Homo sapiens: one gene and its partners. The protein of the gene in region 2 purifies or fractionates together with the protein of the main gene of each other region. This does not show direct contact. Each region holds a gene or a part of one and is shown on either strand. Other genes may lie near its edges.

Region 1 (7,962 bases), on a different chromosome or scaffold from region 2:
AGGCCAGTAGGGACGGAGAACTGTCAGATAACAACATCGCACACAGAGGAAAAAGACCCTCACCCACCCGAACCAACCCCACCCCTCCCCACCCTGCCATGAACTGTGTAGTACAGGAGATGGGATAGGGAGAGCAAACCCACAAAAGCTAAACTCCAAACACCCAGAGGTGTTGCTACAGGGAGGGGAGGCGTGGGCAGGGCAGCTCATGGATCACAGTGGGGCTCCTCCCACTAGGTCAGCACCCCTCCCCCACAGGATGAAATGCTCGGGCCAGGGATGGGGCCCAAGCCCACACACCATGCACACTGGAGGACACGCTGCCCTCACACAAACACACATGCACACACACCCACGTGTGCCTGCGTCCCGCCGACACACGCAGTCCGAGGCACGCACAGGAGTCCCACAGCACTGACATGGACGTGCACTCATGTTCAACCTTAAGGCTGCAGAACGTGGGGCCCTGGGGAGAGGGAGGGGTGAGGGGGGCCTAGGAGCCTCCCTTTTCAGAGGCCCCCCACCCCAATAGGTACCAGAGATGCCCACCCCCACCCCTCCCTGACCAAGTCCATGGGGCCCAATACTGTCCGGTGTAAGATTGTAACAGCCAAGGCTGGTGGCCCTCCACCCCCGCAGAGGAGAGGGTGAGCCCAGCCCATAGCCCCCAGTGGGGCCAGGCCAGGCCCAGGGTCCAGCGGGAGGTAAGGCCAGCTGGAAGGAAGCCCTAGTAAGGCACGGGGCTGGGAGGCAGGCAGGTTTGGCCCCAAATGTTCCTCCTGCCTCATCCATAGGGTGAGGACAGTTTGGTGGGGAGGAGGCCGGACCAGGAGGCGGCACCCAGCCCGGCCACTCCTGGTTCCCCATGGTACAGATCCTAGGATCTGACTCCATTCACCAGGGAGCAGCCCTAACCCCCAGCCCTGCAGCTCCCAAGGGCCCCTGCCTGCCCCTGGACATTATTGCTTTTCTGCCCCCATAGGGGGACAGCGGGTGGGGGATTGGACCGCCCCGTGCCTGGCCACTCCGAGCCTAGGCCACGGGGCCTGGAAGGCAGCACCACTGTCTGCCGGGTGTCGCGTCCCACCAGAAGGCAGCCTTCGTCCAGATGCAGCAGCGCGGAGGCAGACACCAGCACGACACCCAGGCCAGAAACTCAGGCAGGCCCCAGGCGCCATGCTTCACCCCTCACTGGGGCTTGTGTGGATTAAAACCTGAATCTCCAACCGCCCAACAGCCCAGGCCTGGGCGGGAGGTGGAGTCTTCCAAATGCGAGTCTGGGCACAAAGGTGAGGCTGGAGGCTGGAGGCAGGGGCTGCAGGGGCCGCTGGGGTGCGTCTGGGAGGGGCCTGAAGAAGAACTGGAAAGGGGGTGAGGAGGTGGGGGTGGGGACACAAACCAAAAAGGCTAAGTAAAAAGTTAGGGGGAAAAAACCACCCAGCGGTGATGGCAGCGAGCGTGCGTCCTCTGCGTGGGCAGACTGCTCACTCGCGGATGCTGGCCGAGTAGGAGAACTGGGGGAAGTGGGTCCGCTGGTCCAGCTCCAGTAAGCCCAGGCTGTCATCTGTGGGCGGCAGAGGTGGATGGGGAGGACCAGTCAGGAGAGGGCCTGGGACACCTGCCCAGACTCCCTGGGGAAACGGCCCCAGCTGGCGGGGGCTGCCCACAGGACAGGACAGGAAAGGCCCATCCCTCCGCAATGGAGGCCCTCAGCCACGGACCCACTCCCCAAACCTGAGCCCCGGGCGGCCTCCTCTGGGAGTTTCCTGTGCCCTTGCCCATGCGCCCCACAGCTGGCAGGGCCTTCTGAGCCTCCCACCTTCTCTCTGCCCCACACACCACCATGCCAGAGTCCAGCCCAGAGCCCTGTCCTGGCCTGCCTCTCGCACCCTCCCATCCATTCTCCACGGGCAGCCAGGGGGGCTTTCTAAAGGCCTGCTTTAACCCTGTCCCTCTCTGTATGAAACCCTTCCATGGCTGGCTCCCGCCATGCAAGCAGTCCCCACCCCTCCCAGTGGCCCCCAGACCCTTGCACTCCAGCCCCATGCCCTCTCTTCTCACCACCATCTCCCTGGCTGCTGCCGGTCCTTAGCTATGCCATGCTTCTCCCATTGCTGGCATCCCACACGTCATTCCTCCGGCCAGCTGACACGTTTGCTTCCTCCTCTAGAAAGCCCTCCCTAACTGCAGGCCAGGTCGGATATTTCCTCTGGGATTCCCCAGTCCCTGGCCTCCCACGCCCTAGCCCTGACCACTCCAGGCCGCCCACCCTACCTGGGCTGGGAGCTTTCCAGGGCAGGGCCCAGGGCTGGCTCAATCAGTGCTGTGTCCCCAGCATAGCCCAGCCCTGGGCTGAGTTCAGAGTAAGAACCCAAACAGCTGTAAAGCAGTGAACCCAGCCAGGCTCAGGGACCGGGCTGCCTCCTGCCCTGAGCCCCCCGACTGAGCTCCAGAACGTGCTGCAGTCAATGGCTCCTGGTGGCCTCACCAGGTCCAAAGAGGACCAACAGCAAAAGGGCCTGAGAGCAGACTTGGGGAAATCTCCCAGACATGAAGCGGGGGCCTTCGAGGGCCCTCCTTGAGAAGTGAGTTAAGAGCAGATCCCATCCCTCCACCCCTGGGGCAGGCACACCAGCGCGGGGGCCCCAGGCACTCACAGCGGTCAGGGGGTGTGATTGTGATGGACTGGGCGGTAAATTCATCATCGAAGTACCTTGTGTCGACCTCGGACGTGACCTGAGGTTTGAAGGGTGGCAGGAGCTACGGAGGAGAGGAGCTCAGGCTCAGGGACCCTGAGGCCAGGAGGCCTCAACCAAGGTCACCACGAGTGGGCCAGGTCCCTGAGGGTCCTGCTGGGGCAAGCAGTGGGGCTCACCTTCTTCTGGACCACGTCCTGCCAGTTGATGCTGAGGAAGAACCTGTGCTCCATGACCTCCTTGGCATCGCTGGGCCCCCCACCAAGCCTGTGCAGAGACGGCCGTCAGCACCTGCCTCCCGGAGCAGCTGGGTTCGGGCAGACGGGCTTTCGGAGCAGGCAGGCCCTGTATGGCCCTTAATGATTCTGTCTTGACCACAAACCACTTCACAGAGGAGGAAACCGAGGCTCAGGGAGGGAGCTCACGTGCCCAGGGTCAGAGCCAGGGAGTCAGCAACCCGGACCCACGTGTCCTCACTGCCTGGCCTTACCCTGAGTCCAGAAAGGGAGTTAGTAGGGCAGGCTCCGTTCCTATCCTGGCTCTGCCACATATGGTTTGGTGGCCCCAGCCAGGCCCAGGGGATGCCCTGTTCCTCAGTGTCCCCATAAAATAAGGCAGTGTCAAGGATGGGCCTGCCCTGGGGGAAGCACTCCCTAAGTGCCACTGTGGACGTTTTCAGGGGCTGTGTGGGGACGACACACTGCGACCCTACAAGCGAGCACCCTTGTGGACGCTGCCCCCTCCAGGCCGCAGGGACAGTGGCAGCAGCTGGCGCTGGGCTGGGTGGGGCCGACGCCAGCCCTCACCTCTGCTTGGGGTCCTTCTTAAGCAGCCCAGCAAGCAGGGACTTGGCCTCGGGGCTGAGCGTGCGCGGGAAGCGGATCTCTTCCATGAGGATGAGCTCGAAGAGGCGCTCGTGGTCCTGGTTGTAGAAGGGCAGGCGGCCGCACATCATCTCGTACATGACCACACCCAGCCCCCACCAGTCCACGGCCCGGCCATAGTCATTGTCCTCCAGCACCTGAGGATGGAGGAGAAATGAGGGCTGGGCCCGTGGCCCTGAGGCTGGCATCACAGTCCTGCCCTCAGGGCATCTGGGCTGGAAACACACAGGTCTGGGGGATCCCCCTACCCTTGGCCTCACACGTTCCTACCCCCACCAACCCCAGACACCTCAGGCGCCAGGTACTCCGGGGTCCCACAGAAGGTTTTCATGGTGGCCCCGTCACTGATGCCCTCTTTGCAGAGGCCAAAGTCAGTGATCTTGATGTGGCCATCTTTGTCCAGCATGAGGTTTTCCAGCTGTTGGAAAAGTCAACGGATCTCAGGTGCATGCTCCCAAGGCTTCCTGCCACCCCAGCCTTTCCTTCCAGGGAAAGATGCCCGGGGCTCCTGGACATCAACCCTCCCATGCCAGGCTGGGCCCAGCACACACAGCCTCACCCTCTGAGGCTCAGAGAGAGGCCAGATCCAACCCTCCTCACCCTCTGGCCCACCCCCATGGTACCTGGGAACAGCTGGGCAGGGAGAGCCGAGAGCCAGGCCCTGTCCACCCACCGTCCCCATTGTGAACTGTGGTTCTTATTTCGAACGTGGGGGCACTAGCTTTCTTCTATTCTTTTTTTCTAGACTTTCTGTCCTTTAATTATGAAATATGCAGCCAGGCAAAGTGGCTCACACCTGTAATCCCAGCAATTTGGGGGACTTAGGTGGCAGGATTGCTTGAACCCATGAGTTTGAGACCAGCCTGGGCAACACAGCGAGACCCCATCTCCATATTTCTTAATATGAAAAAAAAAATTAGCCAGGCATGGTGGCACACACCTATAGTCCCAGCTACTTGCGAGGCTGAGGTGGCATCTCCCCCTGGAAGGCCCTGTGTGCCCCTCCCGGTTACTGACCATCCCCCACAAGAATTAACCTCTACTTCCCATCTGTACCACTGCACACAGACACACCTGTGAACTGTGGACTCACCTCCTCTGTGCGGCTTTCCCTCGACATTAGCCTATGAGACGCGTCCACACTGTCGTGTGTAGCTGTAGCTCATTCCTAACTGCTGTGTGGCGTCCCACTGTGAGAACACTCCACAGTGGATCTGACTGTTCCTCTCACAGTGGATACTTGGGTTGTTCCAGTTGGGGCTAGAGTAAGTCCTGCTGCTGAGTGAGGGGGACACTTTCTAAGGTGAGTGTGTGTCCCCACTTCTCCTGTGCACACAGCTAGGGCAGATGACTGGTGCTCAGCTTTGGTGGACACTGCCAAACTATCTTCTAAAATTGGCCGGGCGCGGGGGCTCATGCCTGTAATCCAAGCACTTTGGGAGGCTGAGGTGGGTGGATCACAAGGTCAGGAGTTTGAGACCAGCCTGGCCAATATGATGAAACCCCGTCTCTACTAAAAATACAAAAATTAGCTGGGCATGGTGGCGGGCACCTGTAATCCCACCTATTCGGGAGGCTGAGGCAGGACAATCGCTTGAACCCGGGAGGCAGAGGTTGCAGCGAGCCGAGATCACACCACTGCACTCAACAGAGTAAGACTCCTCAAAAATAAATAAATAAATAAATACAAATAAAGTAGGTATTGTGGCAGTTGACACTCCGCTAGTGGCCTAGGAGCGCTCATGGGAGGCTTGGGAAGGTCCCTACTTGGGGCAACTTGCCACAGAGCCACCACCCTGGACCTTGGTGGGGAGCCTGGTGAATGAGGGCAGCCACCACCCTGGACCTTGGTGGGGAGCCTGGCGAATGAGGGCAGCCACCACCCTGGACCTTGGTGGGGAGCCTGGCGAATGAGGGCAGAAGCTCAGCCCAACTTCCCCAGTGTGAGTCCCATGTGGTGTGCATGCCACAGGTCAGCCTGGCGCACACCCTGCCACTAACCTTGATGTCGCGGTATACCACGTCCCGCGAGTGCAAGTACTCAAGAGCCGAGACAATCTCTGCACCATAAAACCGGGCCCGCTCCTCTGTGAAGACACGCTCCCGGGACAGGTGGAAGAACAGCTGCAGGAGGAAGGGGTGGGGAGAGGAGGTCAGGCCCCAGCCCACCCACCTGCCCTCACCTTCCCAGCCCCCTGCCCCAGCGCAGTGATGTGGTGACACCTGTATCATGAACCAGCAAGTGACAGCTAGAGGGACCAATCAAGGCAGAGCGCAGAAGCTCATAAGTGACACAGAGCTGGGGGGAAGGGCGAGGGTCTGCCAGGAGGCACCCATGAGAGGGTATGGGAGAGACATCCGAGACAGGAGGGAGGATGGCATGGAGGCAAAAAGAAGCACACGTCATGACCAAGTAACAATAGGCCATGGGCAAGCCCAGATCAGACAGATGAGCAAACCACGCATCCCAAAGCAGGTGTGCCAACCACTGCACAGAGAAGGCGCGAGGCAAGGAGTGGGTGACAAAAGTGAGGCGACTCTGTAAGGGGAAGCTGAGCGGCTGCGGGAATTCACTTCGAGAGGACACGGGAACGGAGGGCTGCTAGGTTTTAACCCTTGGGGGCTTTCTCTGGGGCCTTTAAGACCATCCTTCCCAGTGCTATCGCCCCACAGCCCTCTCCACACCTCTCTGGACTGGTTTGGACCTGACCCACCCACTCACTAGCTGTGTAAACTTGGGCAAGCCACTTAACCTCTCTGAGCCTCAGTGACTGCCCCCCCAAAATGGAGACGAAGCCGCCTGCCTCAAGGGAGAGGGGCACTAGATGACACTGAAATTTCCCTCCACCCTTCCATCTCACCCACAGCTCCTCTCCATCCCGCCCCACCCTAAAGAAGGAGGCCCCAGAGGGCAAAGTCAAGGCAGCCGCGGCTCACCTCACCCCCGTTGGCATACTCCATCACAAAGCACAGGCGGTCGTGGGTCTGGAAGGCATACTTCAGCGCCTGGGGGATGAAGGCAGCAGGGTGGGAGGTGGGAGGGAGGAGGGCTCTGCTGAGCCATGCCAGGGCAGGGCCCTGGCCCTGCTTATTCTGCACACACACACCCTGCCCTGGCTGGGGCCCCCAGGAGTCAGCCATATGGGGTTCACATACCGGCTGCACCTTTTGGGGCATTAAGTGAAGGCATGGCTCTGCGGTAGGAAAGGGTTACATGCTGAACCATCTTGTCCTCTGCCTCCATCAGGCACAGCCAAGGGAGAACTAGAGCTGTTCTGAGCAACCATGGCTCTTGTTTTTACAGTAAAATGTGTTCAACTTACACACACAAGTGATGTCTGCTGTGGCTGGGAGTGGCAAAGGCTTGGGAGCCAACTTCAATGACAGGATGGACAGGCTGTCAGTCAACAAACAGTAGTTCTCCACTGCACTAAGGAGATCTACAGAGAGTTCCTCAGAGACTCCCACCAGGGGGTCCTTCAGCTCATGACAACTCAACTATTCTGTTTTCTGCACTGAGGTACCTCATAAGATTTTATTTGAAAAAGTACTGTGGCTTAATAGGATACCTGGACAGCAACTGAGATAAAGAAATGATACATAAGCCATCCTCAATCTAGTCCATTTAACTGGTGGCCACTGGCCTTGATGGAGACTGCAGCCCAAACAGGCATCTACTCAGTCCAGGCTGACAGACAACACAATGCTAACACATCTGCTTCTATGAGCATATCTGAAAACAAAAACAAAAAAAATAATGTTTCCACTTCAACCAGCTGGGCTAAGTGCTCCTAACTCATAGAGACAGCAGCCAGCAAATAATGTGATATCTTCAGTTAGTTCAAATGCTTACATGAAGCCACCATCTATGAAGAAGCTGTCACCCTCCCACTCCCCGAGCCTGCTCACCCCCACCACATGTCTTGGTTCGGATGACTTGGCAGGGCGCAGCAACACCTTGCCCTGCCCGCCTGGCCTACCCCAAGACTGTGCTTTGTACCAGAAGATTAGGGCTCTCTCTCTGAGCTCTGTCCAAAGGCTGGCCTCACACTGTCTGGGAAGGGGAGGGCAACTCACAGTGAGGAACGGGTGCCTGGTGTTCTGGAGGACCCGGCTCTCGGTGACTGTGTGAGCGACTTCATCCTGCAGACAGACTGCGGGTGAGGGGCTGGTGGGCAACACCACACCTGCCCACTCCGCCCCGACGAAGGGGAGCAAGGCCTTGTGAAATGCAATTCCATTCCCAGCCATAAATGCAGAAAATCACAGGAGTGAAAAGTGAAAGCCTGCAAACCCTCAGCAAATAGCAGACCCAGACGAGGATCATCAGTGGCTCTCAAAGCCACAGGTGAAAAGTCAGCAGGAATGTCACAATGTAAGGA
Region 2 (6,970 bases):
AGAATAATCCTAAATTCTAGGGTTGTTGTAGAGAAGTGATAACATATATAAAATGCTCATCACAATTCTGGCACATACAGCTTGAAAAAATGGTAGCAGTTGTTATTATTTGAGAGAAAAGCAACCCTAATGTGCAAAGAAATGAACAGTTTGAAAGCCTTCTGGCATATTCTCCATTTATTCCTTACAACAAACAAGAGTTTGAACTAGGAAAACAATAAGGATGGATACTTTATCCCTAAAGAGTTGGACCCCGAACAAAAAAAATCCCTACATTTTCAGTGACATTAGAATAAGAGAACTCAACACTTTGAAAATAAAGTCCCAGAGAGTACAGAGTAGAAAAGGTATTTCTATTTCTTAATTTCTTTCTCAGCACTAAATGTATCAGCTCCTCAAATTCATCTCTGGTAAAAAAAAAATAATAATAATAATAATAAATAAATAATGAATGGATAAATGAGTTTGAGGCTCTGAGAGGTGAAGTGACTTATTCAAGATGACACCGCTAGTAAGAACGAGATTTCTCTGGCACTTAGTTTCTCCAGCTGAAAAATCACTGCTCTGAATCAAGTCTAGGGCTCTCACCACCGAGCCTCTTTTGACTGAGCCCAACTTCGCCGGCGCGTCTGGACAGCCGGGTTCGAGCCGCAGGGGTTTGGGGCAGGGGTGCCAGGTGCGTGGCTCTGCGAGGGGATTAAAGCCCAGGTGCGGCCTCTGCCTCCAACTCAGGTCTCCCTGGGGCCGCCCCAGGCCCCACAAGGGCCAGGTCGGGTGAGCGCCCCCCAAGGGGCACCAGACCCCGCCAGGTCGGGGGCCCCCTCGCCAGGGCCGCGTGGCCTCCGCCCCGGACTTACAGAGAGCACCCACCCCGGTCTTCAAAAGGCCAGAGTCGTCCCGCCGCCTGGACCCCTCAGCCACCTCCCGGGCCTCCTTCCAGCGGCCGCCACCTTCTCCACCAGCTCCCTAGTTCTGGTTGCCACCCAAGCTCCGTCCCCATGGCAACCGCCACCGCCGGAAGCGACAGGCCCTAAAGCGACAGGGCAGGGCGGTGGTCACGTGCCAGGAAACGGTGACGAGCGTGCCCGACGTGCCTCCTGCCGGTCGCTGGCGGCATAGACTTTCCTCGCTTTTCTGTCCTTCCTCCGCTCGCACGATCCCACCTTTTCACATGGTCCCGTCCCCTAAGAAGCTGCAGCGGCCAATACTGCCAATTTTTACTTTCCGCAACCTTGGCAAGATGGGGTGGAGAAGTATGAACTCGGATACAATGCTCTTTTCCAAAAGCAAACTGAATTTCCAGGTCTCATGGATGCAGCACACAACCGTCCTGCCTGCCTCCTCACCGGGCACCGCGTGTTGCAGACAATTCCAGCTGGCTGGGGGCAGATATGACACAGGGTGCACCAGCTTGCGGTTCTCAGCACAAAGCGTTTCCGCAAAACCGGTCTGGCTATATCTATTAGGATCATTCCACGTCAAAGTGGCTCTCCACTAACATCTCATGGAAGACGGCAACAGGTGGCCACACGGGTTTCCACTGGGACCCCTGCAGGAAACCAGCCAGAGCCACTGAGGCAGAAGGCTCTCTGCTGCTGTCATTTTAGGAGAATGTGAATAATTCTCCCCGCCCACACTGCCATGCCCCAGTGATGGTAAATTGATTAATATGCATACATCTTAAAATAAAAAAGAAAGGATAAACTGGGCAAGCTGTGTTTATTATAGTCTGAGACTTTATAAAAGAGACTGGAAAATACGTGGAATTAGAACATGCAATTTAAACAGCAAACATTGGTAAACACAGCATGTCTGTGGCTACCAGAGGGGAATACGTATGGCTGTCAGGTCAAATAGAGTTTGAGGGAATTCGCCCAATAGGAAGGCTTTGGAATTGAGTGTGAGAACCTGTGGCTGGAAGCACACAGCAATACCAATCCCATCAAGGCAAGCTGGTATCTGTATCCAACCACAGCAAAACCAGTCCCAAGGAACACAGGGCTTGCCTGGCAGAACTGCCAAAACAGAAAGCGGTGTGCAAGAACTGGGGAAATGAACACTGATACCATGGAGAGGAAAAAATAATTCAAAGTATTGGCAGGAATCCCTGAGAACCATTTTACCATCTTAAAAGAGACAAAAAATAAAAGGGAGGAAGAATAAGCATTTTCAAGAGGTCTGATCTACTCGTTCCTATCCATACCTCAGCGGTTTACAAAATAGCGCTGATCTCAGGGCATAGCCAGGAGGTTCAATTATAAAAAGTCAAACTAGCAGTGGGCTGGGCGCAGTGGCTCACGCCTGTGATCCCAGCACTTTAGGAGGCCAAGGCAGGAGGACTGCTTGAGCCCAGGAGTTCGAGACCAACCTGGTCAACACAGGGAGACCCTGTCTCTACAAAAAATAAATTAGCTATGCATGGTGGTGCACGCCTGTGGTCCCAGATACTTGGGCGGCTGAGGCAGTGCCCACAGCGTCAAGGCTTCAGTGAACCTTGATCACGACACTGCACTCCAGCCTGGGTGACAAAGCAAGACCTTGTCTCCAGAAAACAAAAACAAAAACACACAAAAACGGAGGGGTTCTTACTAGCGAAGTGAAAGGAGCTTGCTGCCCTCTGGTGGGTTCCTAAAGAGGAAGCTGACAGGACACCACGCTGGGCCACCTGGGAAGCCTCCAGGCTTTCCCTGTTCTCCAAAGGGAGCTACTATGGCCCTGACAGCCCAGCTGCTGAGGAAGCACAGTACTTAACCATTTCCGTATCCACAGCAGCAAGGCCTCAGTGCAAAGAAATATGTTGGTCAAAGCCTGACTTTGCAATTGCTAGCCTGTTTTGCCCAACTTTCTATGAAGCTCTTCTGACCCCATCTGAGCTTTGGTTTGGGAGGGTCATAAGAAATTCAGCTGGGGTGACAACAGGGTCATATCAGCACTGTAAAACTCTTTATTAAAAATAATAATAATAATCACACCAGTACCTGCCAGAATAACTTCCGCCCACTTGCCCACAATCCAGGGAATTCCTATTTAGGGCCGTGGCCTAATTTGTGAAAGAGGCCAAGCCTAAGTTTTTAAGAATGCCTTAATCCAGGGAGATTACACTGGTGGGCCACAGTACTGCCACCACACAGAAGTTCAGGTTACAAGCCTCTTCCAGATCCTTATGCTTCAGGGAGAGAAGACAAGTTGGAAATCCCTAGACCCAAGTCCAGGGCAAGGGAAGATGCTTTCCTGTTACTGTTCCCCAGGGACAATCATCTTTGCAGAGGAATAATGTTGCAGCTGGAAGAAAGAAGAAAAGGAATGGCGTAAGTTTGGAGGCTCCCTTCAGGAAGGTCAGAGGCTGAGCCCTTCTGACCTTTTCACCAATGTTCTTTCATTCTTTTAAAGCAAATGCCTAGTGCATGAATGAACTGGAGAGACTCCCAGGAGAGACTCTGGGGCTCCCTCTGCTTCTAGAGCTGTAGTCTCGTTCCTACCACGAGGATTTATCTGCAGTTTCCATGCAAACTGGGGATTCCCATTATTCCCCAATGTCTCCCCAGCCTTCCCCTCCAGCTTCATGTTTAACAAACACTCAAATGATGCCCCAGTGAGAATGAACAGAAACAGATACTTTACCCCAGCAGTCCTTTTCCTGCCCAGCGTGTTGGAACAAGTCTAAGCTGGTGTTTTTCCCCCCTGCGGATCACTGTCACATTCAGGGGCTTCTGAAAAGAAAATAAGCTCATTTCGTGTTCAGCCTCGTTAGTACTCAGAGATGCAGGCTAAAATGCTGAGATCCCATTTTTTGCCTATCAAATTGGTAAAGATTTACATTTGCAGCATAATCCTGTGGTTGGCGAGAGGGTGGGGAACGTGGCACTGCACTCTCAGGGCAGCCAGGGTGCTGACCTCAGTACCATCTTCCTCAAAAAACACGTGTCCCACCACCAACGATCTTTAAAAGGTACATCCAAGGTACATAGTACACAATTGCAAGATGACATACAAATTACAAGACATACAAATGCCTGTAATCCCAGCACTCTACAAAAAGTATAAAAATTAGCGAGACATACAAATGAAATGTTCATTCCAGGACTGTGTAGAAATTCAAAAACTGAAAACACCAGAAATGTCCATCAATAGGTATTGTTCAAATACAGTACAGAGAATGAAGGGTTTTAGTCAAAACAAACCAAAACCCCACCAAAGTATGAACCTATTTGATAATATTTTCTTTCTTTTTTTTTTTTTTTGAGACACAGTCTCACTCTGTCACCCAGGCTGGAGTGCAGTGGCACAATCTTGGCTCACTGCAACCTCTGCTTCCCAGGTTCTAGCAATTCTCATGCCCCAGCCTCCTGAGTAGCTGGGACTACAGGTGCCCGCCACCACACCCGCCTAATTTTAGTATTTTTAGTAGAGACAGGGTTTCGCCATGTTGGCCAGGCTGGTCTCAGAACTCCTGATCTCAGGTGATCCACCCACCTCAGCCTCCCAAAGTGCTGGGATTACAGGTGTGAGCCACCGTGCCCGGCCGATAATATTTTCTAAAAGGACACCTGTGTTGCTCTAGTGTGCGAAGTTTTCTGGAAGAACATGGAAAAACTTGTTAAGAGTGGTTACTTCCAGAGAGGACTAGTCCTTTGGAAAAAGAAGATGTTTACTTTTATATATTTCCATATCATTAATTTTTTAACCATGCGTATGTATTGCTTTATTTTTCTGAGACAGAGTCTTGCTCTGTTGCCCAGGCTGGAGTGTAGTGGTGCAATCTCAGCTCACCGCAACCTCAGCCTCCTAGGTTCAAGCAATTCTCGTGCCTCAGCCTCCTGAGTAGCTGGGACTACAGGCATGCAGCACCATGCTCAGCTAATGTTTCTGTATATTTAGTAGAGACAGGGTTTCACCATACTGGCCAGCCTGGTCTCAAACTCCTGGGCTCAAGTGATCTGCCCACCTCAGCATCCCAAAGTGCTGGGATTTTGGGCATGTGCCACCACACCTGGCATGTATGTATTACTTTCTTTTTTTTGAGATGGGTTCTCTGTCGCGCAGGCTGGAGTACAGTGGCACAATCTCGGCTCACTGCAACCTCCGCCTCCCCGGTTCAAGCAATTCTCCTGCCTCAGCCTCCTGAGCAACTGGGATTACAGGCACGTGCCACCATGCCCAGATAATTTTTGTATTTTTAATAGAGATGGGGTTTCGCCATGTTGGCCAGGCTGGTCTTGAACTCCTGATCTCAGGTGATCCACCCACCTCAGCCTCCCAAAGTGCTGGGATTACAGGCATGAGCCACCACACCCAGCCTGTATATAGTACTTTAATTTAAAAAATTAAAATTAAAGCAGGGGGAGTACATACCAAAAAAATTACAAATTAAAATACGATATCCAGGCACGGTGGCTCACGCCAGTAATCCCAGCACTTTGGGAGGCAGGAAGATCACTTGAGCCCAGGAGTTGAAGACCAGGCTGGGCATGGTGAAACCCTGACTCTACAAAAAGTATAAAAATTAGCGAGGCATGGTGGTGTGCACCTATAGTCCCAGCTACTCGGGAGGCTGAGGCAGGAGGATTGCTCAAGGGAGGTCAAGGCTGCAGTGAGCTGTGACTGCACCACTGCACTCCAGCCTGGGCAACAGAGTGAGACCCTGTCTCAAAAAAATAAAAATAAATAAATAAAACAAGATGCCATCAAAATCTAAAACTTCTATGTATCAAATGACACTATTAACAGAGTGAAAAGGCAACCCACATGATAGGAGAAAATACATACATGCTGGGTACGGTGGCTCATGCCTGTAATCCCAACACATTCAGAGGCCCAGGCAGGAGGACTGCCTCAGCTCAAAAGTTCAAGACCAGCCCGGCAACAAAGAGAGATCTCGTCTTTACAAAAAACATATATTTTTTTTAATTAGCCAGGCTTGATGACGCACATCTGTAGTCCCAGCTACTTGGGAGGCTGAGGTGGGAGGATCACTTGAGCCCAGAAGCTCAAGGCTGCAGTGAGCCATGAATGTGCCACTGCACTCCAGCCTGGGTGACAGAGTGAGATTCTGTCTTAAAAAAAAAAAAAAAAGAAAAAAGAAAATACATGCAAATCATATATCTAATAAGGATTTAACATCCAGAACATATAAAGAACTCCTATACCTCAACATCAACAAAAAAATCTGATTAGAATATGAGCAAAGGGCTGGGTGTGGTGGCTCACGCCTGTAATCCCAACACTTTGGGAGGCCAAGGCAGGCGGATCATGAGGTCAGGAGATCAAGACCATCCTGGCTAACACGGTGAAACCCCGTCTCTACTAAAAATACAAAAAAAAAGGCCAGGCGCGGTGGCTCACGCCTGTAATCCCAGCACTTTGGGAGGCCAAGGTGGGCAGATCACAAAGTCAGGAGATTGACACCATCGTGGCTAACACAGTGAAACCCTATCTCTACTAAAAATACACACACAAAAAAAATTAGCCAGGCTTGGTGGTGGACGCCTGTAGTCCCAGCTACTCGGGAGGCTGAGGCAGGAGAATGGCGTCAACCCAGGAGGCGGAGTTTGCAGTGAGCCGAGATTGTGCCACTGCACTCCAGCCTGGGTGACAGAGCGAGACTCCGTCTCAAAAAAAAAAAAAAAGAAAAGAAAAGAAAATGAGCAAAGGACTTGAATAGACCTTTCTTTTTCTTTCTTTTTTTTTTTTTTTTTTTGAGACAGGGTTTCACTCCTGTTGCCCAGGCTGGAGTGTAGTGATGCAATCCCTTAGCTCACTGCAACCTCTGCCTCCTGGGCTCAAGCGATTCTCCTGCCTCAGCCTCCTGAGTAGCTGTGACTACAGGCACAATCCTCCACACCTGGCTAATTTTTGTATTTTTTTCCAGAGACAGGTTTCACCATGATCCCCAGGCTGGTCTCAAACTCCTGAGCTCGAGTGATCCGCCCGCCTCAGCCTCCCAAAGCACTGGGATTACAGGCATGAGACA
Region 3 (7,962 bases), on a different chromosome or scaffold from region 2:
CTTAGAGGGCTGAGGGGGAGGATCCCTTGAGCCCAGGAGGCAGAGGTTGCAGTGAGCCAAGATTGCACCACTGCACTCCAGCCTGGGTGACAGAGTGAGGCCCTTTTTTTTTTTTTTTTTTTTTTGAGACGGGTTCTCGTTCTGTTGCCCAGGCTGGAGTGCAGTGGCAGGATGTAAGCTCACTGTAACCTCGCCTCCCAGGTTGAAGCAATTCTCCTGCCTCAGCCTCCTGAGTAGCTGGGACTATAGGCACGTGCCACCACCACAACGCCCAGCTAATTTTTTGTGTTTTTAATAGAGATGCAGTTTCACCATGTTGGCCAGGCTGGTGTCGAACTCCTGACCTCAAGTGATCTGCCTTGCCTGCCTCGGCCTCCCAAAGTGCTGGGATTACAGGCATGAGCCACTGCGCCCAGCCAAGACTCTGTCTAAAAAAAAAAAAAAAAAAAAAAAGATTAAAAAAACATTTTATAATTCTTACCTGGATTCTGGGGAAAAAAAGGAAAAAAAAACCACTTTGTATTTGATAATTTGATCATTTAAAAGAGTTTTGAAATGTTTGTGATCAAAGACTTTCAAGTGACCTTACTACTTGAAAAGATTATGAACCACTGAATCAACAGTGGATGATTTCAGAGCGCTTTCTTGGCTCTGACCTTCTAAGATTCCTTCCTTTTCTGTAAGTGTTCTCCATTCATGATGTCTATCAGTTAACATTATTTGGGTCTGCCTATGAAATGTCTCTTATTTGTCTCCTCTTTAATTCAAGCCCTCATTTTTTCCCTATTGCTAGGTCTGTAGTGTTAGTCTGACTTCTCCTTACCTCTGAAATTCCTTTTCTAGCAAATTCCTTTTCTAGCAAATTCCTTCCCACCTTGTAACCCCAGTGAGCATACATCTCGAGTCAGCTGGTGCTAATCTTTTCCGTGGTTTCCCATTGCCTGTAGTGAGTTTTTAGAATGCCATTTGGGCCCTTTACAGTATATTTCCATCCTACTTTTCCAACCTCACTTTTTTCCTCCACTCCACTTCTTTTCATCTGCTCCAGCTACCATGTGGCACCCTTATTTTTCCTTAAGCCTGACTTGCACTTTCCTAACTTTACTCATACCAGCCTTTCTAACTGAAATACTTTGCTGTCTGTCCATATTCTGTCCATCCTTTTAGGCCCACTAAAGAGCCATCTCCTCCAAAATATTTTTCTCAATTATTCCAGTTGCAAATGACTGCTCCTTAGATCTGCTAAAGGACATTATTGTTATTTCTGTTAATGATAATTGACACTATTACCTATGTTATAGTTCTCTGTGTGTCTATTTCCAGTTTGTAAATTCTTTGAAGGCAGTGACCGCATTTTGTTCATGTCTGCATCCCTCTTAGGGCCCAGCACATAATGCAGTATACGCCCAATTAAATTTGAGACTCACAGAGTTTAGAGTGGCCACCTTGTCCAACCTCTCCTATTAGAGATGAAGAGACTTCCAGAGGTCATACCGCAAGTTGACAGCAGAGATGCAGTAGGAACTGAAGTGAGGCAGAATTTGAGGATTCAGGTCCATGGGGAAGATAGTTTGCTGAATGAAGGAGCAGTGCTTTAGGGAACAATTTTAATGGAATTTAAAGACAGAATAATTCAGAACTGGATACATAGTAGATACCAACTGCACCTTGTGGGAATAATTCTCTGGATAGTATCTGGCAGTCTTCAGATACTTTGCTGTTATCCTGGCTAAACCACATAAGTTGTTGTGTGTTGGTTCACAATCTGATCTTGCAGATGTAAGTTAGAATCTTGACAGTTTTTTTTGAGAGAGTTTAAGTCCTAAGATTACTGCTTTAGAACATGAAAATCAAACAAGACTAATTTTAAGCATTAACTCTTTGGCTCGTTGGCAAAGAAGGGTCACATAGGATCTGAAATTTGTGCACTGTGCAGTTTAACGTACCACTACTTTTTTTTAAACAGCTTTCAAAGGTATAATTTATATACAATGAACTGCACTTAATAAAACGTACAAGTTGGCAAGTTTTGACATATGTATATACCCATGAAACCATCGCCACAATTAAGATAGTGAATGTATCTTTCACTCCCAGAGGCTCCCTCATACCCCTTGCTAATCTCTCCCTGTTTCAACCAGTCAACCACTGATCTGCTTTCTCTCACTGTAGATGAACTTGCCCTTTATTTTGGCCAGACATGGGGGGAAGGGATCATACAAATGGAGTCATACATTATGTATTCTTTTGTTTGGTTTCCTTCACATAGCATAGTTATTTTGAGATTTATCTATGTGGCATGAATAAATAGTTCATTCCTTTTTATTGTTGAGTGTAAGTCCATTGTATGAATGTACTACAGTTTTTTATCCATTCCCCTGTTGGTGAACATTTGAGATTTGAATTGTTTTCTGTTTGGAGATATTACAAATGACAGTGCCGTGAGCATTCATGTACAAGTCTTTACATAAAAATATTCTTTCTTTTCTCTTTGAGTAAATAGCTAGGAATGAAATGGCTAGATGGTATGGTAGGTGTATATTTAACTTTTTAAGCAACTGGCAAACTGTTTTCCAAAGTGGTTATAGTATTTTACATTTCTACCAGCAGTGTATGAGAGTAGATCATAGACCTAAATATAAAACCTAAAACTACAAAACTTCTAGAAGAAAACAGGAAAAAAAAATGTATGACTTTGAGTTAAACAGACTTCTTTAATATGACACCAAAAGCATGATCTATACAAGAATAAATTGAGCTGGGTGTGGTGGCTCATGCCTGTGGTCCCAGCTATTCAGGAGGCTGAGGTGGAGGCTACAGTGACCTGTGATTGCTCCACTACACCAGCCTGGGTGACAGAGAGAGCTTGTCTAAAAAAAAGAACAAAGTGATACAAAGTAGAATTAATCAAAATTAAACATTCGGTTCTTCAGGCTAGGTGGTGGCTAACGCCTGTAATCCCAGCACTTTGGAAGGCTGAGGTGGGCGGATCATGAGGTCAGGAGTTTCAGACCAGCCTGACCAACATGGTGAAACCCTGTCTCTACTAAAAATACAAAAATTGGCTGGGCGCGGTGGCTAACGCCTGTAATCCCAGCATTTTGGGAGGCCAAGGTGGGCAGATCACGAGGTCAGGAGATAGAGACCATCCTGGCTAACACAGTGAAACCCCATCTCTACTAAAAATACCAAAAATTAGCCAGGCATAGTGGCAGGCACCTGTAGTCCCAGCTACTCGGGAGGCTGAGGCAGGAGAATCGCTTGAACCTGGGAGGCAGAGGTTGCAGTGAGCCAAGATCGCACCACTGCACTCTAGCCTGGGCAACAGAGTGAGACTCAGTCTCAAAAAAAAAAAAAAAAATCGGTTCTTCGAAGGTTACATACAGTTAAGAGAATGAAAAGAAAAGTCACAAATGGAGAAAAATCTTTGTGAAGAATATATCTGATAAAAGACTTCTTTTCAGAATATGTAAGGAGCTTTCAAAACTAAATAGCAAGAAAATAAATAACCCAATTAAAACATGGGCCAAAGATTTGAACAAGAAGTACAGATGGGGCCAGGCATGGTGGCTCACACCTGTAATCCCAGCACTTTGGGAGGCCAAGGCAGGTGGATCACCTGAGGTCAGGAATTCGAGGCCAGCCTGGCCAACCTGGTGAAACCCCATCTCTACTAAAAATACAAAAATTAGCTGGGCTTGGTGGCAGACACCTGTGATCCCAGCTACTCGGGAGGCTGAGGCAGGAGAATCACTTGAACCCAGGAGGTGGAGGTTGCAGTGAGCCAAGATCACGCCATCGCACTCCAGCCTGGGCAACAGAGCGAGACTCCATCTCAAAAAAAAAAAAAAAAAGTACAGATGATAAATATGCACGTAGAAAGATATTCAACATTAAATAGGGAAATACAAATTAAAATTACAGTGAGATTCTACTGCACACTATTAGATTGGCTAAAATTTTAAAAGGCACAGAAGCAATGCAACCCACATGTGCAACCAAAGTGTCTATGAAGGGATGAATGGATAAACAAAATGGGGTATATACATATGATGGGATATTGTACATCTTGCCTCAAAAAGAAAGGAAATTCTGACAGATGAACTTTGAAGACGTTGTGCTAAATGAAATAAACCAGACACAAAAGGATAAATGTTGTATGCTTTTACTTACATACCTAGAGTAGTCAAATCTAGAGAGACAGAAAGTGGAATGGTGGTTGCCAGGTGCTTGGGGAGGGGAGAATAGGGAGTGTTCAATGGATGCAGAGTTTCTGGTTGGGAAGAGGAAAATGTTCTGGAGATGGACGATGGTGATGGCTGGACAACAAAGTGAATGTACTTATTCCCACAGAACTGTGCGTTTAAGAGTGGTTAAAATGGTAAATTTTACCTGTAATCACATTTTTTTTTTAAAAGGAAAAGAAAACCATACTTGTAAGTATCCTCATTCCTCCTCTTCCCCGTTCCTCCAGCCTCTGGCAACCAGGAATCTACTTTATTTTATTTTATTTTTTTTTTTTGAGACAGAGTTTCGTTCTTGTCGCCTAGGCTGGAGTGCGATGGCGCTATCTCGACTCACTGCAACTGCCGCCTCCTGGGTTCAAGCGATTCTCCTGCCTCAGCCTCCTGAAGTAGGTGGGATTACAGGCGCCCACTACCACACCCAGCTAATTTTTTTTGTATTTTTAGTTGAGATGGGGTTTCACCATGTTGGCCAGTCTGGTCTTGAACTCCTGACCTCAGGTGACCCACCTGCTATGGCCTCCCAAAGTGCTGGGATTACAGGCGTGAGTCACCGAGCCTAGCGGAATCTACTTTCTATATGGATTCGTCTATTCTGGACATTTCATATAAACAGAATCATTCTCAAAAGGAAGCCTTTTGTGTCTGGCTTATTTCACTTAGCATAATATTTTAAAGGTTTATTCATATTGTGATATGTATCATTACTTCATTGCTTTTTATGGCTGAATAATATTCATTATATGCACATAACACATGTTTATCCTTTCATCACTTGGTGGACATTTGGATTGTTTCCACTGCTGTGAACATTTGTGTACAAGTTTTGTGAAAATAGCATGTTTTCAATTATCTTTGGTATAAAAACATTCTTAATACTACCTTAGGTTCAATTATGCAAAGTGAAATTCCTGAATTAAAAGAGTATGTTCATTTTTAAGGCTTTTCATTTGTATCATGTAGTTACCTACCCAAAAGGTTGTATCAGTTGAATTGTGTACTACTACTAACAATATATTAGCCCATTTATTTGTAGTGTCTATTAAGAGACAAGAAAATTGTTCTGAAAACATCTTCTGTATCTACCACTGGTAGTCATCAGTTTCTCTTACATAGTTCTTCCCTCTTCTCTCTATCCTCACTGCTGCTCCCCTGGTTTACTCCTTCATCACCTCTCACCATTTACTGCCTTGTAATTGAAAATTCTTCCCCTAACACTGGTGCAGAGTGAATTCTATAAGTCAGATCTCGTCATTTTACTTCTTTAAGACCACTTATGGCCTGCCATTGATTTTCTGGAAGAAGTCTAAATTCCAAGCATGACATAAAATACCTGTTAGAATCTGGCTTCTGTGCATCTTTTCAGTTTCAGTTCTTGTCCTTCACCTCACCCTTTTACCTTCTCACCACCTCTCTCCCATTCTGACCCCAATCATACCAAACTACTTGTTCCTTGAAAGTATAATACTATGTCTTATTCCTCTCTGCCTTTTCATGTGCTGCTACTCCCTCTACCTAGAACACTTTTCTTCTGGATAACTCCTACTTTTTCTTAAAATTTAGTTTAGATGTTACCCTTCTGGGAAGCCTTCCCTGTACCCTCTGTTCTTTTTTAAGCTCCTATAGTTTCTAGTCTTAGCCCATAGCGTTTATTTATCTGGATTACAGTTGCCTTTTTTTTCTGTATCTTTCATTGTATTGAGCTCCTTAAGACTAGAGAATATATCGGGCCAGGCACGGTGTCTCACACCTGTAATCCCAGCACTTTGGGAGGCTGAGGTGGGAGAATCACAAGGTCAGGAGATCGAGATCATCATGGCTAACACAGTGAAACCCCCGTCTCTGCTAAAAATACAAAAAGTTAGCCGGGTGTGGTGGCATGCACCTGTAGTCCCAGCTACTCGGGAGGCTGAGGCAGGGGAATTGTTTGAACCCAGGAGGCGGAGGTTGCAGTGAGCAGAGATCGTGCCACTGTACTCCAGCCTGGGCAACAGAGCGAGACTCTGTCTCAAAAAAAAAAAAAAAAAAAAAAGGCCAGGTGCGGTGGCCCAAGCCTGTAATCCCAGCATTTTGGGAGGCCGAGGCAGGTGGATCACCTGAGGTCAGGAGTTCGAGACCAGCCTGGCCAACATGGTGAAACCTCGTCTCTAAAAATACAAAAATTATCCCAGCATGGTGGCAGGCCCCTGTAATCCCAGCTACTCGGGAGGCTGAGGCAGGAGAATTGCTTGAACCTGGGAGGTGGAGGTTGCAGTGAGCCAAGATCAGGCCATTGCACTCCAGCCTGGGCGACAGAGCAAAACTCCACCTCAAAAAAAAAAAAAAAAAAAAAAAAGAAGACTAGAGTGCATATCTTATTCTTCTCTGTTGCCCCAGCACAGGCAATGCGCATAATAGGTACTTAGCAAATGTTTAGTAGGTGAGTGAAAGCTGCTGTTTCAAAAAGAAGTCTGTGTGGAGGAGACGCTGACGCAAGCTTCAGCTATTATTAGGTTGTTACTTCCTACCTGGGCAGGATATGAACTAATAAGATTTATGATGTCTCCTTCAGGGAAAAGACTACTTTGTGTGTATCCATTCTGGAGAGATTGCTCCAAGCTATGGAACCGGTTCACGTGGCCCGGAACCTCAGGGTTGACCTGCAGAGGGGACTAATTCACCCTGATGATTCTGTAAAAATCCTCACTCTTTCCCAGGTATGAAATTCTACTAGGAACCGACATTGACCACCTGCTCTGGGCCAGGTTCTGCACTGGGACAGAAAGATGAAGAAAGCACAGTATTTCTCTCTCTCCTTCCCTCTTCCTTCTCCCCCTCTCCTCTGCTCCCTCTTTCCCCCTAGGAAATGTGTGGTCTATTCCAATGTGCATAGCTAACTATAACCTGGGAGATACAAGCTAAAGAAAGAAGTTCCATTAAGTACCATCTAAATCATTCATTAATCAGATACTGACTGAGTTCCTTTTACATGCCAGGCATGGTGCCATATGCTGTTAGAGTTACCAAGATAAACAAAACTGATTACTTTCCTTCAAGGAGCTCCTAGTGTAAAGAAAAAGATTCCTATGTGTTCAAATAGCTCTCTGCCATTTTAGATTCTTTACACTGGATGAACCAAATGCTATTGTAAAGGTCACTAAACCAACAATTAAGACAGTAACTCTTATCATCCTGGTAACCAAAGCATCCTTGCTATTTGAGTGAAGAGCTGCTGCTAAGGATTATCTTGTTGAAATGTTAGGAGCTAAACAGTTACTCAGTAGATACTGAACTACTGTTTTTCCTTTTCTGTGTTTATTCAGCAAAAAAGGGCGCTGGGCACAGTGGCTCACGCCTGTAATCCCAGCACTTTGGGAAGCCAAGGCAGGCGGATCACCTGAGGTCAGGAGTTCAAGACCAGCCTGGCCAACATGGTGAAACCCTGTCTCTACACAAATACAGAAATTAGCTGGGCATGATGGCAGGTGCCTGTAATCCCAGCTACTCAGGAGCCTGAGGTGGGAGAATCGTTTGAACCCAGGAGGCAGAGGTTGTAGTGAGCTGAGATCGCGCCACTGCACTCCAGCCTGGGCGAAAGAGTGAGACTCCATCTCAAAAAAAAAAAAAAAAAAAAAGGTTGGGGGAAAGGGGGAAGATATCAGTTTATTCACTGGCCATTTATATGCCAGACACTGTAGCAGGTGCTTTGCCTGTTCGGTCTCATTTAATCTTCGTAACT
Region 4 (6,747 bases), on a different chromosome or scaffold from region 2:
ATATTTAAAGAAGAAAGAAAAATACATGCCTACATGTACATATAGACAGAGAATGTCTCAGGTCACCGAAGAAACTTACTAGATGTTGCTTCTGGGTAGATGCACTAAGGATTGGGGAGTAAGAGAAAGATTTATTTGTGGTTCCTTTCATTTGTCCTACAATCTCAGCTGCTATCTAATTGTGGAGGCAGGAGAGTTTCTTTTCATATCCCAATTTTGCCTTATGAGGCGTTTCTGTCCATCAGAGATGACTGGTTTGGGTTTATCTCAGTTTCCTCTCCAGCTGAGTGTCCCCATGAAGTCACCTTCTGAGTTGTCTGGTTGGCCACAGTTGAAATAAAAGGTTCAGTTGAGTATCACACACATGCTTTCTTTGAAATAAAGTTTCAGGGTATAGTAGGAAGGCACAATGAAACTGAAGTAGAGGTGGAATCATGTTGTAAGTGAAGGGAAATGGCCTTGTTACATTGGAGTATGATAAACAATGCTAACTTCTTAAGTAGCTGTACCTATTTCATGTAATTTTGATTATGATTATAACCTGCAACAATTTTAATTATGATTTTAACCTTGCCAGAATTCACCTGACAAGAGTTTTGTCAGGAATTAATTGAATTGTCTTTGTAATGGGGCAGGAAAATGTATCTGGATTTTTTTTTTACATATGTATGTATTACTTTTTCAAAAAAAGCAAGAAGCAAGAGGGAAAAAAAATCCAGCGGAGGCTTCCAAACAGTTAAACAGACTGCAGATTAAATGAGAGGCAATTGTGAATTAAAGGCAACTGTGATTCAACTGCCCCAAAGCGGCTGATACTCAGGGCAGAGCTCAGGGCGAATCCAAGAGCTGGGAAAAGGAAATGATGTGAGACTTTGTGTGAGACAGTGCGGACAACTCATACCAGCTGAGCATAGCACAGACTAGAAAACCTATTACACTGAAATGCTATTGAACTGATCTTCAGAAGCCACGCAGATATGCTTCTGAATACACCAAAAATCAACACCAGAAATGCAAAATGAAACAAGTTTATTTTCTCCAATAACTTCTGTAAATTACAAAGACAAAATACTAAAAACTACAGCATATAACTTTTCAATATTTAACCAGAGTACTCGTAATAAATATGCATCCGGAAACAAGATAAAAGGCTACACCTCGTCAGGCATCCTACAAAAATGTCTCAAGTTTTATATACTCTGCAGCATTTCTGTGCGGGGGCAGAAGGGGCTGTTGTGTATTTTCTGAAGTGCTGTGACAAAAGGTCCTTTCACATTTCTTTGGAGCATTTTTGAAATTGCTTAACTATAATTAAACAACTTAAGAAAAGTAACACCAAGCTTTAAAGCCATTTTTGCTTTGCTGTCATTGGTCCTTATCCAATACAGATCAACATATCATCCAGCACAGCCAAGCACCCACTGAGGCCAAGCAGCCTTGTGGGACATGGGCCCTGTCAGAGCAGGCCCTACTTTCAGTTAAATACTTTGGAGAGTCCAGGATTCTGTCTCTCTCCCTCAACAAGATTAATGCCATAAGGGAAGTTGCAAGCGTGTTAGAAACATTTTTAACCTGAAAGTAAAGTGAACAGAAATATTTTTTTTCCGAGACCTCTGCTATGCACCATAATATTACCATATCAGGGTTTTTAGCTTCAAAGTTGAAAAACAGATTGGTACTAACAGTCCTTCTAGAGATCATTTATGGGCGCTGGTAGAGTCAGGGCATTCAAAACATTCAACGGGTAAAAGGAGGATTTGCTAGATTCAGAAATGCGCTACAATTCTGAAGACACCATGGCTGAAAGTTCTAGGGGTGTTGGTGGCAGCTCATATTAGGTCTGGCATACATAACTACCTTTTGCTATAGCTGAAAACTTTAAGGAAAAAGTTATATTTTTAAAAAGTCTCAAGCATGGCTACCTAAAAAGTATTTTGTTAATATAATCTACTGTAATTTCACTTATTTAGGAGTTCAGATATGAAAACATCTTTATGAGCCAATAAAAATATTACAGAGAAAAAAATACTTCTACAAAAGTTGAGGTTAAGAACTATGAGGCATTTCTTTTGGCTGTAAACACACAGTTTACTGTCCCTTGTTGAAACACAAATGTTTGGATTTCCTGAGCTTCACAGATAACAGCAGGAGGCAAGTTTGCATAGAAAATTTGCAGTATGTCAACAATTTACTTAAAAAAAGAACTTTTAAGGACAACTTGCTTTTGTTTTTAAGTTTCATATTTTAGTTAATAGTGCTCATCAAACTGAATATTGATAAGCAGGGTGATGAGATATATAAGGCAGATGGGAAGAAAACATGGAATTAGAGTTTTTAAATCCACAGGATATCATGATGAAGGGTTTTAAGCAGATACTTCATAACTAGTGCCATACTAATTTAGTTAGAAATTAAATCATGTTTTGGAATTGAAAGCCAAAGGCAAAAAGAGCTCTCCTGTGCTGAATGGCACTGCCCGAGTACAGGAATGGAAGGAGCATTCACTGCAGGAGGCCTCAGCACATCACTCGGTGGTGATAAAGCCACTCAGCCAGTCAGGGATGGAGGAGGGGGCCCCCCTGCCAGCATCAGGACCAGACCTCTGGGCATGGCTGATCCCAGCTCTGGAATCTGAAGGGATGACAGGGACTTTCACCTCTGCTGGTTTGAAGTCTCTAAGCAGTTCTGAGGCGGGCAGTCTTCTCCTGGGAGAAGTCCTCAGAAACCTTTGGAAAGGGAAGAAGCTACGCTAGGCCACAGTGCATACCACGAATGAGAACAATGGCAGCGGCTGCCGACAACTCTGGATCTAACACAAAGACAGATGACAAGGGGCAGTGTCCTGCCAAGGAATCCACTTTACTTCTTTTGAGACTGGTTTTTACACATGGTAAGGATTTGCTTCAGTACTTTCTGGACATCTTCATCCATCTGGCCCTAGGATATTCAAACACAAGATACTCATTAGAACCTAAATTAAGCCATGGCACTTTCTTCTCTGGGGAATGAGATGGCTGACTGCAATGAAGACCTGGGCTAATTCCCACATCTTTCACAGGAATGTCAGCCCTATCATTTCCCAAATTTCTATGAGGAACTGAGTCAAAGAAAGGGCCCTGCCTTTATCCAGCTGGAAGATGAGGTGGCAGTGTCTACCAAAACCCTCAGCAAAAGCTATCTGGGGTCTCAGTTGCAAATGTGAGTCCAGCAGCCAGAACACCAAGCATCATAGAGCCAAGGCAGCACTGGTAACTAAGAAGATCAGCATTGCTGGAAAATAAAGCCCCCGTCTTCCCAGTGGAGGACCACATCATCCCTCATTCCTCAATAAATGATGGGAGGGTGGGGCATGGTGGCTCATGCGTGTAATCTCAGCACTTTGGGAGGCCGAAGCGGGTGGATTGCTTGAGCTCAGGAGTTTGAGACCAGCCTGGGCAACATGGCAAAGCCCCATCTCTACAAAAATACAAAAATTTGCCAGGTACGGTGGTGGGTACCTGTAATCCCACCTACTTGGGAGGCTAAGGTGGGAGGATCACTTGAGCCCGTGGGTCGAGGCTGCAGTGAGGCGAGATTATGCCATTACACTCCAGCCTGCATGACAGAGTGAGGCCCTGCTTTAAAAGATGGGGCTGTTCCTGGTAAACAGGGCACAAGGCTCCTGACACAGAATCCAAAGCAATGCAAAAGGCATATTCAGGCTTTCCAGTGAAAAGGATTCTCCTCTAATTCTTGTTCATTCTCCTAGTTAAATGATGGGAGTTCTGTCAACATCTGCTGCCGTATTTCTTTAGGATGTCCAGATACTTCAAGGGGCATAACCATACCTGCACAGCATACAGAAGATGCATTCTGTAAACTGATATGACCTCCTGGTGTTGTTTCTTGCATTCCTAGAAAGGGAATATTTCACATTATTAATGAGCTTAAGAGATCTTTAAAGAACAAAAACAAAAAACTATGAGAAAGCTGCAGCCAAATGCTACCCAAGTGGTCCCCTCCACTTTATGCTAGCACTGGAAGCTTCTAAAATTGTTGTGGCCTTACTGGCTTGTGTATTTCTGAATACTTGTCAATCATCTTAGGGAAAAAAGTCTTGGTATGTCAACTCTAGAAAAAACTGTATAAAAAGGAGTTATTATCACCCCACATTTGGTTTTAAAAATATATGCTCTTTGGGCGGCTGAGGTGGGTGGATCACTTGAGGTCAGGAGTTTGAGACCAGCCTGGACAACATGGTGAAACCCCGTCTCTACTAAAAATACAAAAATTAGCCAGGCGTAGTAGTCAGTACCTGTAATCCCAGCTACTCAGGAGGCTGAGGCAAGAGAATCGCTTGAACCTAGGAGGCAGAGGTTGTAGTGAGCCGAGATCACGCCACTGCACTCCAGCGTGGGTGACAGAGCAAAACTCTGTCTCAAAATATATATATATATGTGTGTGTGTATGTGTGTGTGTGTGTATGTGTGTCTATATATGTGTGTATATATGTATATATGTGTGTGTATATATGTACATATACTTATGCAAATACAGCTACATTAAATGTAAATACTGCAAGGAAATATATCAAATGTAAAAAGTGATTATCTCAGAGTTATTGAATTATGGAAAATTTTTATTTATAGGAACTTGTTAGAGTTTTCTTTATTTTTCAACTTTTCTACAATGACCAAATATGTACTAATTTAATTTTTAAAGCCTATTATTTTTAAGGGAATTATTGATTACCCACTATATGGCCAGCATTGTATAATCCTTGGGGAGCTCAATTATTTAGCTATCAGTGTACTAAGAAGGCAAAGAGGGTGGTGGCCCCAATCTCCAGTGGTTCCTCAATACAGCCGCTGATGCTTCTATTTCTCCTTGTTGAGCTATTACTCCAGTTCCTCTCAGTGGCTGTTTCAAGGGTCTTATCTCTGAAACTCTTGTTCTAAGAACCTGTCCTCCTAATTCATCATGAAAATTGAGACCATCATATATGGATTACTTCAAAAATGTACAAAAGTCCATAATACCCATTCTTCCTTCCCCCCATCAGTGTCAGAGTATGAGGTATCTTTCCTGTTATTAAGGGACATTTTAAAACCCGTCCTTTAAGTTCACATCATAAGAAGGCACATTTGGCATTTCTCTGTGTTGTTCCCTCCCCACCTTTCAGCAACCTCTACTCAATTATTTATGATTTTATCTTCTGATCTGGCTTCCTTTCTATCACTGCCTCTGTCATCATTCGCTTGGCTTTGATATCTGTGTGAATGATCCATCTAACACCTGGACCTCTCAGTTCCTCAACTTCAGCTTTAATAACATGCTCCTCTTCAGTTCAGCAACTCCTGTCATGGTTGTAGCCCTGCCTCTATCATTACCACCTCTGAAATCTCAACTGAAAGCATCCCACACCCTAACCACCACTTCCCATCTTTCCAGCAAGCTTGCTTCAGGCTTCCCCCAACCCCTACTGCGACTGGTTAGCCCCACCAGATACCTATCTACTTACTTACTTCTCTAGCAGCCAGTCTACTGCGGTCCAGATTCTACCCTCCTCCCCACTCCACTGGAATGGTTCTCACCAAGGTTCCCAAAAGCCAGCTAGTGCCATATGTCAGTCCTTGCTAAGTAACAACATATTCTTACTCAGGCCTTCAAGACTCAGCACAAGTGTAACTCCCGTAGGAACCTTTTCATGACTCAGCAAGATTGGGTAGACACATTTCCTTTGTATGCCCACGGTATGCTGGGCATCTCTTTGCTGATAACTTATATAGAGTATAAACTCCTTGAGGGCAGGGACTGAGTCTTACTCATTTTATATCATCAGCCCCATGTATAATACTGATGTAAGAGCTCAACAAACACATGTTGCGTAATTATAAGAATTACTGTATAAACCAATAGCACTTTATCTACAAGTCTGTAATACCATTTTATCAGGAGAAGAATGACCTGCAGAACACAGTAAAGAGCAGCTTCTCCTAAGTATCCACCATTTCTAGAGCTGTTTCCTCCAAAGCTAGCATTGAACTTTGTGGCCAGCCAGAGTAAGGACTGCAGAAACCTGAATTCACTACAGTTAGGTCTATTCCGAAGAAATCATCAAATCCATGTTCTGTTTGTATATGGAAGCTAGAGACAGTCCAGGACAGACTAACCCTGGACTTTAGGTAGAAAACGGAATGTACCCATGCCAACTCAAACCTTAACAGATATTGTGGTAAGCTAAATAATGGCTCTTGAAAGATGTCCACATCCTAATCCCCAGAACCTGTGAATGTTAAACTTTATATGGCAAAAGGCATCTTGCAGATGAAATTAAGGGTTTGAGATGGAGAGGGAGATTATCGTGGATTATCTAGGTGGGCTTTAGATGTAATCACAAGAGCCCTTATAAGAGGGAGGCAAGAAAATCAAAGGCTGAAGGAGGAGATGGGAAGACTGAGCAGATGCTGGAGTGATGTGCCTCGAAGATGGAGTAAGGGGCCATGAGCCACAGAATGCAGGCAGCCTCTGGTACTGGAAAAGGCAAGGAAATTGATTTTCTCCTATGGTCTCGAGGAGGAACCAGCCCTGCCAACAACTTGAAGTTAGTCCAGTGAAAGTGATTTTGGAATTCAGTTCAATGCAACTGTAAAATAATACACTCATGTTGTTTTAAACCAAATTTGTGGTGATTTGTTACAATGGACCCAGGAAACAAATTTAGATAAGCAAGGGCTTTCCTGGGTGAAATAAGGAGAGGGGCCAAGA

The links.
Region 1: the proteins of PSMD9 (region 2) and AKT2 purify together in Homo sapiens (affinity purification with mass spectrometry; 3 studies listed by BioGRID and IntAct, with this or other methods). This does not show direct contact.
Region 3: the proteins of PSMD9 (region 2) and PSMD5 fractionate together in Homo sapiens (co-fractionation; 2 studies listed by BioGRID). This does not show direct contact.
Region 4: the proteins of PSMD9 (region 2) and RAI14 purify together in Homo sapiens (affinity purification with mass spectrometry; 2 studies listed by BioGRID and IntAct, with this or other methods). This does not show direct contact.

What each region holds. Positions count from the first base shown.
Region 1 is NC_000019.10:40,232,388-40,240,349, forward strand, and holds part of AKT2 (RAC-beta serine/threonine-protein kinase), read right to left. Parts: intron 7,724-7,962; coding exon 7,658-7,723; intron 6,587-7,657; coding exon 6,518-6,586; intron 5,705-6,517; coding exon 5,582-5,704; intron 3,999-5,581; coding exon 3,870-3,998; intron 3,718-3,869; coding exon 3,503-3,717; intron 2,964-3,502; coding exon 2,876-2,963; intron 2,761-2,875; coding exon 2,658-2,760; intron 1,565-2,657; coding exon 1,485-1,564; 3' UTR 1-1,484. UniProt on the Homo sapiens protein: Serine/threonine kinase closely related to AKT1 and AKT3. All 3 enzymes, AKT1, AKT2 and AKT3, are collectively known as AKT kinase.
Region 2 is NC_000012.12:121,912,596-121,919,565, reverse strand, and holds the end of PSMD9 (26S proteasome non-ATPase regulatory subunit 9), read right to left. Parts: intron 3,711-6,970; coding exon 3,622-3,710; intron 3,283-3,621; coding exon 3,255-3,282; 3' UTR 1,269-3,254; downstream 1-1,268. UniProt on the Homo sapiens protein: Acts as a chaperone during the assembly of the 26S proteasome, specifically of the base subcomplex of the PA700/19S regulatory complex (RC).
Region 3 is NC_000009.12:120,832,290-120,840,251, reverse strand, and holds part of PSMD5 (26S proteasome non-ATPase regulatory subunit 5), read left to right. Parts: intron 1-6,795; coding exon 6,796-6,940; intron 6,941-7,962. UniProt on the Homo sapiens protein: Acts as a chaperone during the assembly of the 26S proteasome, specifically of the base subcomplex of the PA700/19S regulatory complex (RC).
Region 4 is NC_000005.10:34,826,878-34,833,624, reverse strand, and holds the end of RAI14 (ankycorbin), read right to left. Parts: intron 3,894-6,747; coding exon 3,828-3,893; intron 2,938-3,827; coding exon 2,860-2,937; 3' UTR 1,013-2,859; downstream 1-1,012. UniProt on the Homo sapiens protein: Plays a role in actin regulation at the ectoplasmic specialization, a type of cell junction specific to testis. Important for establishment of sperm polarity and normal spermatid adhesion.